Regions from separate parts of the Homo sapiens genome. Here region 1 is linked to region 2. The links come from fine-mapping of genetic effects on gene expression. A gene starts in region 2. The other region holds a variant in brackets. All regions are shown on one strand. Distances are from middle to middle.

Region 1 (4,375 bases), 700 kb after region 2:
GGCTGGAACTTCCTTGGCAGCTGGTAACAGTCAGTGCCTTCAGGGGCTGCCTTAGGGGCGGACAGAGGCTGGGGTGAAGGTTTAAAGAGGGGAACCATGGATCTGGGCCTCTGAGTCGTGGTTTTCAGGGGACAGATCTGGCTTACTGTCTTCCCATCTGAGAAATGGGGTGTGGAGTGGTCTGGAGAGATGAGTTCTGAAACTCCCATCAACTTGGCACCTCCCCTTAACCGCTCCACCCAGGCCCTTCTGGGTGACTAGTTTAGGGTTTGTGAGGACTAAGTGGTGGGAGGGGAAGGGGTCTGGGTGCCCACCCAGGGAGCATCTGTCAGCAGGTGTTTGCCTGTGTTTGTGTGTACGAGTGTGCCTACACACACCCATGCATGCATCCCTAAGCACACACAAGCACACACACATACACCCCATGCACACATACCCAGGCACACACACAAACACAACGTGAAGCTGTGCCCAGAAGCAGGAGGGCCCTTGATGCCCTCTGGTCACTGCTGCTACTGTGAGCCAGGGCTGGGGAGGAGCTCAGGCCCAGGCGTGTCCCCTCTGTGGCAGGCGCATTGCTTCTTCTGCAGCCAGCGTTCTGTCTCCTGCGTGACCACTCACACCTACAGACCAGGTGGCCAAGCCTGGACATTGTCCAGGCTATCAGGCCTCTGAAACACCTCAGGGAAGGGTGAGGCCAGTGAGGCCCAGTAGACAAAGCACAGGGGCCTGAAATTGATCCTCCATGACCACAAGCACCGAACTTTCTTAGCCCCCACTTCGTTATGTGTATGCTGAGGATAACGCAATGTAGCTGAGAGAGTACATGAGGGTAAATACCGCCTGTTCAATCAATAGTCCTTGTTATTCTCATCCCCAGTCCCATTCTCATAGTGGGGAAAGGCTGCAGGGTCCATTCCTGCTCTCCCAGCTGGTGACCAATGGCAGGTGCTGGTGAACAGCGTTGGATTCAGGAGCCCAGAGCTTCTGAAATTCTACATCTGTTGGAGTTGGTGCTGTCATCTGGCTCTGGGATCCAGAGCTCTTGGGACTCATGGGTTTCCTGGGAGGTGAGCTCTGGCAAACGTGGATGGTTGTTCTCCCTGGGTGAATCCATACTAGGGAGTTTGGGTAGAAGGCCTTGGGAAGCCCTGGTTTTGTTGGGTGAGGTGTCGGAAGGCAGAGCAGAACTCATGGATGGGACATGCGGGTTGTAGATTTCAGCTCAAACGAGTAAGAACATTCTTAAGGCCAGCACTAGCCAAAAAAAAAAAAAAAAAATTAATAAAAGGAAGAACTCTCACTTAAGATACTGAGCTTCCTGTCCTTGGAGGTAACCAACCAGGAGCTGGAGGACTGCTTAGCAGGAATCTTGTGAATGGAGTCAAAGCCCCAGAGAAGGCACTGGACTGAGAGCCCCCATCTAACCCCATGTGTGCCCTGTTTCCATAGAGGAGCTTGCAGGACCCTGGAGCCTGGACCATGGATGGAATTCTCCAGTTGACCTTTTCCCTGTTAAGTGGAGTGGGACAGGGTGGGTTGGGTGCCTGGCTCTACAGATGGTAACTGGGCTTCAGCCTTACCAATTCCTGGGGGAGGCAGGGCACCCTCTCAGTGGAGGGTTGTTACCTCTCAGGCACCGCCAAATACAATTGGCCATCTCCTGCTCTCTTTTGGGGCTGGACTGTGGATCCCTGCTGCCCCTAAACAGAAGTCATAACCCATATCTCCCCGGACCACAAGGCCTGTCCACTAGAATCTCTGCATCCCGATTTAGGAAGTGGAAGGCGGGTACTGCTCACCACCAGGCCGCTGGGGTCCACAAAGCCTGCTCCAGCCTAGAACCCCAGGTGGATGTGCAAGTGTTTTACTTATCCCTTGAGGGTTAAAATCACGGGAATCCTTTCTCTTTTGAGGTTAGGTCAGACGCCATAAATGATCCAGAACCCCTGGAGCGGGGGCTGATGGAGGGGGTCCCTCTCTTGTCTCTGATCCCAGAGCGACTTTCCTCTTGACTTCGTGGGGGCCTCCCTTGGATCCCTGTCCTCCTTCCTCTCTCCGCTCCCTCTGTCCGTCTCTCCCGGAGCCGGAGCCGGGCTCTGGGTCTCTGGTCTCCTCTGAATTTCTCTCTCTCTCCCTCCACCTCGGCGTTCTGGCCCTAGGAGCGTCTCTCTCCAGCGCTGTCTAATAGTCTGTGCGCCCCTCTCCCAGTCCAGGGCCCCGTCTCTGGCCCGCAGTGTCTCGGGCTGTCTCCGCGTCTCTGAGCCCCTGGGCTGCCGCCCCTCGCGCGCTGCGGTGGCCGCGCGGGCCGGAGCGGAGCGGGCTGGAGCGCGGCGGCCACGGCCCGGGGCGGGGGTGCGGGCCCGCGGGGGCGGCGTTGGGCGCCTTCCTTCGTCAGTCCCTCCCCGGCGGCGCGGGGGGTGGGGTGGGGGGGGG[GC/C]GCGGCCGCCGCTCGGCGCCTTTAAGGGAGCGGGAGGGAGCGGCGAGGCGGCGGCGGCTGCGGTGGCGGCAGCCGAGGCGAGCGGGGCGGGGGCGCGGGCGCGGCGCTCGGAGTCCGTTCGGGGCCGGAGGCGGTCGGGGCCGGGCCCGGGAAGCGCGAGGAGCGCGCGTAGCGCCGCCGGAGCCCGCCGCCCGGGACATGGCCAAGGCGGGCCGTGCAGGTGAGGGCGGGCGCGGGGAGGGCAGGGCCGGGGCCCGGGGGAGGGACTCGCGCGTCTAGAGGAGGGGCCGCCGGCCCAGGTGAACCCCTCGCGCAGGTGGGCGGAGGTCCCGGGAGGGCGTAGGGGGCGGTAGCGGGGCTGGACCTCCCGCGCGTGGAGAGGGGGCTCCGCGCGCCCCCCGTCCTTCCTGCGCCCCCGGTCACCTCGGGGGACACCGCGTCCCCTTCTCCACGGCCCCGCCGGAAAGGGCCAGGTCTGCGGCGCCCCGGGCCAGTCCCGCCGTTGGGAGCCCTCTGCACCCCGCGGAGGCCCCGGGCAGACCCGGGCTTCGCCACCGAAGGGGATGTCCCGCGGCCGCCGCTTCGTCCCACACCCCAACGCAAACCGGGACGCGCCCCCTGCTCCTGCAGCTCTCTCCATCCAGGACGCCACAACCCCCCGCCCCAGCCCCCGTCACCAGCTCAGTCCAGAGACCCAGATTCCTTCTCGGGAAGGAGGGGAGCCCCGTGCCGCGCCGGCTGCTGGCCGCCCCGCCCCCTCCCCCATCGACCCTGGGACGCAAAGCCTCAGCTGCGGAGGCCTCTTCTGGGGTCCCGTGGGCTCTGCCCTCCCCCAGGCTCAGACGGTGTAGCCTGTGGTTTGAGGGAGCGGGCATTAGTCATTCGTTCATTCATCCAGCCCGACGTTCATTCACTAGCATCTGCTCTGTGCCAGACCCTGAGCTGGGCACCGGGGCTCAGGCGGACTCAGCCCCCCTGCTGCGCCCATGCTGGGGAGACCCAGGCCCGTGACTCATCGGGCACATTCTGGGCCCGATGGTGCCTTGGGAGGCGGGTGGAGGACAGCTGTGCCCACAGGGCCGGCCATACAGTAGGCGGCAGCAAGCCTGGTCTCGGCAGTGCCTCTTGTGAGGCTGGCGTGTGAGAATCTACCATGAACTCACACCCAACCCGTGACGTTGGCTGGTGCCATGCCGTCCCCCAGGACCGGGCGCGACAGTGAAGGAATGGGTGTGAATACCATCGGGCTGTGTGTCAATCCACCCCCAAGCCCGAAAGCTGCCCGGGACCCTGGGCTGCGGACCCGTCTCCCTGTGCAGGCACTGAGCCTGTAAGATTTAGGTGCCTGAGAATGCACTCCCGTTCTGTCCCCAAGGAGTCCTGTCGGGGTGGGGCCGGTTGTGTGAGGCACAGCCAGTATGGAACACAGCTAAACAGCCTTCTCACTCCCCTCCCTTTTCCCCTCCTGAGGGAGGCACTGTGAGATGACACCAAGGAAGCTGAAAAAGGCTTCTTGCCTCCCTCTTTCCTCCACCGTGCCTGGGTCCTCACCCACCCCGACTCCTTAAAATGGCCTGTGGCAGGGCGTGTGTCCCATCTGCTGCCCTACCCTGTGTGTGTGTGAGTGTGTGTGTGCACTGGGACGCCTTGAGCACAGGTCACCTGCCAGGGCACTGTCATCGCAACGGCAGTGAACATTTGCTGCTTGTTCTATGTATTAGGCAGAGTGCTAAGCTCTTTACTGTACCGTGATCCTGGGAGGGAGGAAATGCGACTCTCCCACTTTTAAAACATCTAGAAACAGATACTCAGAGAAATAGCAGCCTCAAGGTGGCTTAGAGGGTCTGGGCAGAGCCTGGACTCACAGCCAGGTCTATTGGACTCGAAGGACTCTCTCTGTCACTGCCCTGATAGGTCACCCCCTTACCAAATGGGGGT
Region 2 (4,355 bases):
ATCAAATATTTCCTGTGTGTGGCACCTAAAGATTATCACCCTGGGTGAAAAAAGAGAAAGCAGAGGACGTGAGATTTGGTCCTGCCTGTAGAACAGCTTAAAGAAAGTCAAGAATTAAGTCAAGAAGTAACAACTACAGAAAAAACAGCTCAGGAAAGGGAGACTGGCATAGGTAGCAGAACTTTTTTTCCCAGATATCTCTTTTCTATCTTCTCTTGTGGAGTGCCCGCTTTTTTTTTTTTTTTTGAGACAGAGTTTCGCTCGTTGCCCAGGCTGGAGTGCAATGGCGTGATCTCCGCTCACTGCAACCTCTGCCTCCTGGGTTCAAGCGATTCTCCTGCCTCAGCCTCCTGAGTAGCTGGAATTACAGGCATGTGCCACCATGCCCAGGTAATTTTTTGTATTTTTAGTAGAGATGGGGTTTCTCCATGTTGGTCAGGCTGGTCTCGAACTCCAGACCTCAGGTGATCCACCCGCCTCAGCCTCCCAAAGTGCTGGGATTACAGGCGTGAGCCACCGCGCCCAGCCATGGAATGCCATCTGAACATACACCACCGCCTCTATCACAACAATGGCTGATGCAAAATTGGAGGCTCAACAGATAAGATGTAAACTACTATTATCATCCACTGAGTTGCCGGGACTAGGAAGTAGAAAGCATCCTACTAATGGTTCTTAATGTCTCCTGATCAGGCATGCCGCTGGGTTTAGGAACTTCCTTATCTCAATACTTTCTTCTCCCCCATATTAGTCAATAAATCCTGGAAATTCTACCCACTAAAGTCCTTTACATGTGTTCTAAACTTTCCATCTCTACTGCCACTGCCTTAAACCAGGCCTCTATCACTTCCTACCATTATTCCCTAAAATTCATTAGGTCAGGAACAGGTCTCACTCACTGCCGTCTCCAGTATCTTGCACAGCACCTGGTTGATAGTTGGTGCTCGGTACATATGTACCTTAAAGAGTGAAGCCGGATTAACGGATTACTGCAATACCCTTCCCACATGTTCTCCCTATTTCCAGGCTATTTCTCTCTCGACTTCTATGATCTTTGCTTTGGACTCCCCAAATACTCATCACTCCTCTTATTAATTCTTGCCTCCTGAAAGATCCATATCCAATTCTTCAATGAATATTTAAGGAACTGCTACTACATACCAGGTTCTGCGCTTGTTGTAAAGAAATTTCCTTAGCATTATAGGTCTCAAATTTAATCAAATCTCTTCCAACTGGTACTTACCGATTGTTGATATCAGAGTCAAAACCTTCACGAAACTCTTCCTCGCTCACTTCACAGCCCAGGATATGCACTTGCTCCCCACTAAGGCAGAGATGAGAAGGGATTGTCAAAGAGTGGGCACAGGTGCCCTATCCAGGGTAGGCCGGGGAGACACTGTGGGATACTCACCACAGTGCAGATTTCTTGACAAGCGCCTTCAAGAGACTGCGCCCCTCCCACTCCACGGAATCTGCAGAGCGAGGGACGGATAAAGGGTATGAGAGCGCTGGGATTACCGCCTTCGCGAACCCGTCGCGATTTCCACACCTAGCCTGTGACCCCTGGCCCTTCCTGCCCACTTCCGTCCCCTCAGCCAGGCCCGAACCGCACCCCCCGCCCCGCCACCGTGCCTCTGGCTCTCACCCCGAAGCAGCACCAGGCCGCCCAAGGCCAACAGCGAGTCCAACATCTCCAACTCGCGTCCGGTCCCTGCTCTGGCGCCCTCTGATGGCGTCATGACCCAGTGTCCTTCCTCCTCGGGGTGAAACGGGCCGAGCACTCGGGCGTCCTCCCACCATTAAGACCTAACATAGTCTGGAATGAGAGGTGATTATGTTCAATATTCCCAGGGGGGCGCTCACGCGGAGGGCGCCCCTCCCCGAGCCCTGGCGCACAGTCGTACGGACAACGACCCCGTCTACATTTTCACTGTGACCGGGGCGGGAAGAGCAGTTGGGGCAGTTGTCAGTGGGAGGGGGAGGAGGACCCACAAGCCCCCCGCGAGGGCCCTAAGCGCGGGCCAAGTGACGTCACTCTCCCCGCCCACGCAGTTTGAGGCGGGGCCTGCTTCGCCTCAGGCCCCGCCCCGCGGCCACCTTCTGCGCGTGCGCAATACTGCAGCCTCGCTTGGAGTGCTTTTGGCTTTCCTTATACCTACCCGCCATAGACCGCGCAGGAGGAACTTAGTCCCGGTGAAGCGAATACACGTCACCACCGGAAGTAGTGTCAAAGGGGAAGAGGAGGGGGAAAGACAGGAAGAGGGAGTCCTTTGGACGGTAAAATGGCGCCTGTCAGAGTGGGAAACCCAGCTGCAGAGGCTGCAGCCCCGGTCCCCAGCGGCTAAAGGACCCCCGAGCTCGGGGAGGGGGAGGCCGCTCCGGCCCAGCGCTCTGCGCCCTCCGGCTCCCCCTCCCCCTCCTTCCCTGCTCCTTCGCTCTGCAGGCCCGTTCTCCGCTGCCGCGGCCCTTTGCGCGCCGCTGCCCCCGCCCTCCCCGTTCCTGCGAGCAGCCCCCTAGCGCGCCTGCGCAGCGGGCCACTCTCTGCTTTCCCCCCCTCCCCTTCCCTTTTCCCTTCCTCCCTTTTCCCTAGCCCCCTCCCCCACTGCCCCCTCCCCCAATTATCCTTCCCCTTCCCTCCAGGTCTCGGAGGACCCCATCCTAGCCCTACCTGTCTCGGCCCGCAACCTCCCCGAAGCCGTCGGTGCCACTCCCAGCCCATGTGGGCCCCCGCGGGCTGCCCACGCCTGTCCCCCAGCTCCCCGTTCCGCTGGGCTTTACCCTCGCCAGGGGTGGCTTTCTGAGCCGCCCGCTCCGTGCCCCTCTCTGCAGCCTCTCCTGCCACTCGGGGCCCCCGTTCCCCCTCCCGGCGGCGGGGGGCTGCCCCCGGGGGGCTGGCGGAGCTGGGCCGCGGGGGCCCCGGGGCCGGCGGTGCCGGGGTCATCGGGATGATGCGGACGCAGTGTCTGCTGGGGCTGCGCACGTTCGTGGCCTTCGCCGCCAAGCTCTGGAGCTTCTTCATTTACCTTCTGCGGAGGCAGATCCGCACGGTGAGCCAGGGTGGGCGCTGGCGGTGTTGGGGACGTCTGGCGGTGTTGGGGACATCTGTCCGTGGTGCTCAGGGGTTTTCGGAGTGTCGGGCCTCTGTTTGGGCCTAGGAAGGGAATCCTGGCTGGGGCTTTTCTCGCCAGAGAATTGGGCACCCTAAGCGGGGCGAGGTGGGAGACCCTTGTAATAGAACCTTGCCCTTGGGGGTTTTGATGGGGCTAGATGGGACAGGATTTGGCAACTCTTGGGGGCTAAGGTGGTGGGTGGGGCGCTCTTTAAGAAAGCTGGAGTTGTTGCTAAAGAAACCAAGAGGCGGGGAACACCTGTTTGATGACAGCCGGATCTGTGGATGTGGGCTTGGGAAAGACCCTATTTGGAACCTCGGTGTGTGTTTGGTCCTATAACAAGGAAGAGACAGACTTGTGTGTCAAGGGTGGAGGTGGGTGGGAGGGCATACGTTACAAACAAGGACGGGAACTTGGGAAAGCCCTGGGTGTGAAGGAGAAACGCCTGCGGTTCCCATTAAGAGAATTCCTCCAAAAAGGCTGTGAAAATTTATTTCATAGTGTGAGTGTAGGTATCTGGATTTATTGAAGACTAAAGCAGATGCTTTTACGATGGGCCTCTTTAATTGTGGGAGGGAGTTCAAGGTGGGTGCTGTGCCCACCATTGAAGTTTGGGTGTCCCTGTCAGAGGACAGCGCTGGGCAGTTGTAGGGCTTGAAAATGAGGACGTTTGCTTCTCCAGGAGAGCCTAGCATTCTGAGGGAAACTGTCCGGATGGACCCAAGCATCTCTGGGTCCCCTCTCCCTTAGCTTTTCTCCAAGGTCAGAGGTCCTTCAGCTAACAGCACTTTAAATGAATGTGCTCTTGTGGTCTCACCACCACCAGGGAGAATCCTCGGAAGGAGTCTGGGGAGAATTTAGTAAGCGGAGACACAGGTTCTGGGTCTGTACTGTGGTCTGTACCCCTTAGCATACCTCAATACAATTTGAAAGAATAAACCCAGGTTGGGGTGACCTGGGGTCCAGAGAATTTCCAGAAAGCCCTCAGTGGTAGTGGTGGTTGATTTAACTGATTTGGGAGAATGGGTCTGGCCTTGGGTTCATTCTGTCCTTTACCAGTCTGCTTCCACTTCCTGATTTAGGGCGCGAACAGTACAGGATGGTTGTGGCTGTAGGCAGCAGCGCTATTCCCCCGAGACAAGAGCTAGGAGCCAAGAAAAATTTAGGGTCAGAGATGCTGGGATATGTGTGGGGCTATCTCCTGGGGTTTTCTTTTCTTTTCTGAGACAGTCTCGCTTTGTCGCC

The links. PIP is the estimated chance that this variant, and not a neighbour inherited with it, causes the effect.
Region 1: its variant is fine-mapped to the expression of ELP5 in hepatocyte-like cells (PhLiPS, PIP 0.95).

Annotation. Positions count from the first base shown.
Region 1 is chr17:6,554,667-6,559,041 of GRCh38, reverse strand. It overlaps PITPNM3 (PITPNM family member 3), which reads left to right and starts at 2,487. Exons shown (of 20, transcript NM_031220.4): 1 at 2,487-2,657. The coding sequence starts at 2,636. RefSeq lists an enhancer at 3,576-4,222. The variant GC/C (reference allele first, on the strand shown) is at 2,437.
Region 2 is chr17:7,249,887-7,254,241 of GRCh38, reverse strand. ELP5 (elongator acetyltransferase complex subunit 5) reads right to left here and starts at 2,027. Exons shown (of 8, transcript NM_203414.3): 1 at 1,646-2,027; 2 at 1,412-1,472; 3 at 1,244-1,324. The coding sequence starts at 1,691. It overlaps CTDNEP1 (CTD nuclear envelope phosphatase 1), which reads left to right and starts at 2,508. Exons shown (of 8, transcript NM_001143775.2): 1 at 2,508-3,047. The coding sequence starts at 2,946. RefSeq lists silencers at 1,371-1,610, 2,381-2,590, 2,661-2,780 and enhancers at 1,641-1,860, 1,729-2,317, 2,318-2,905.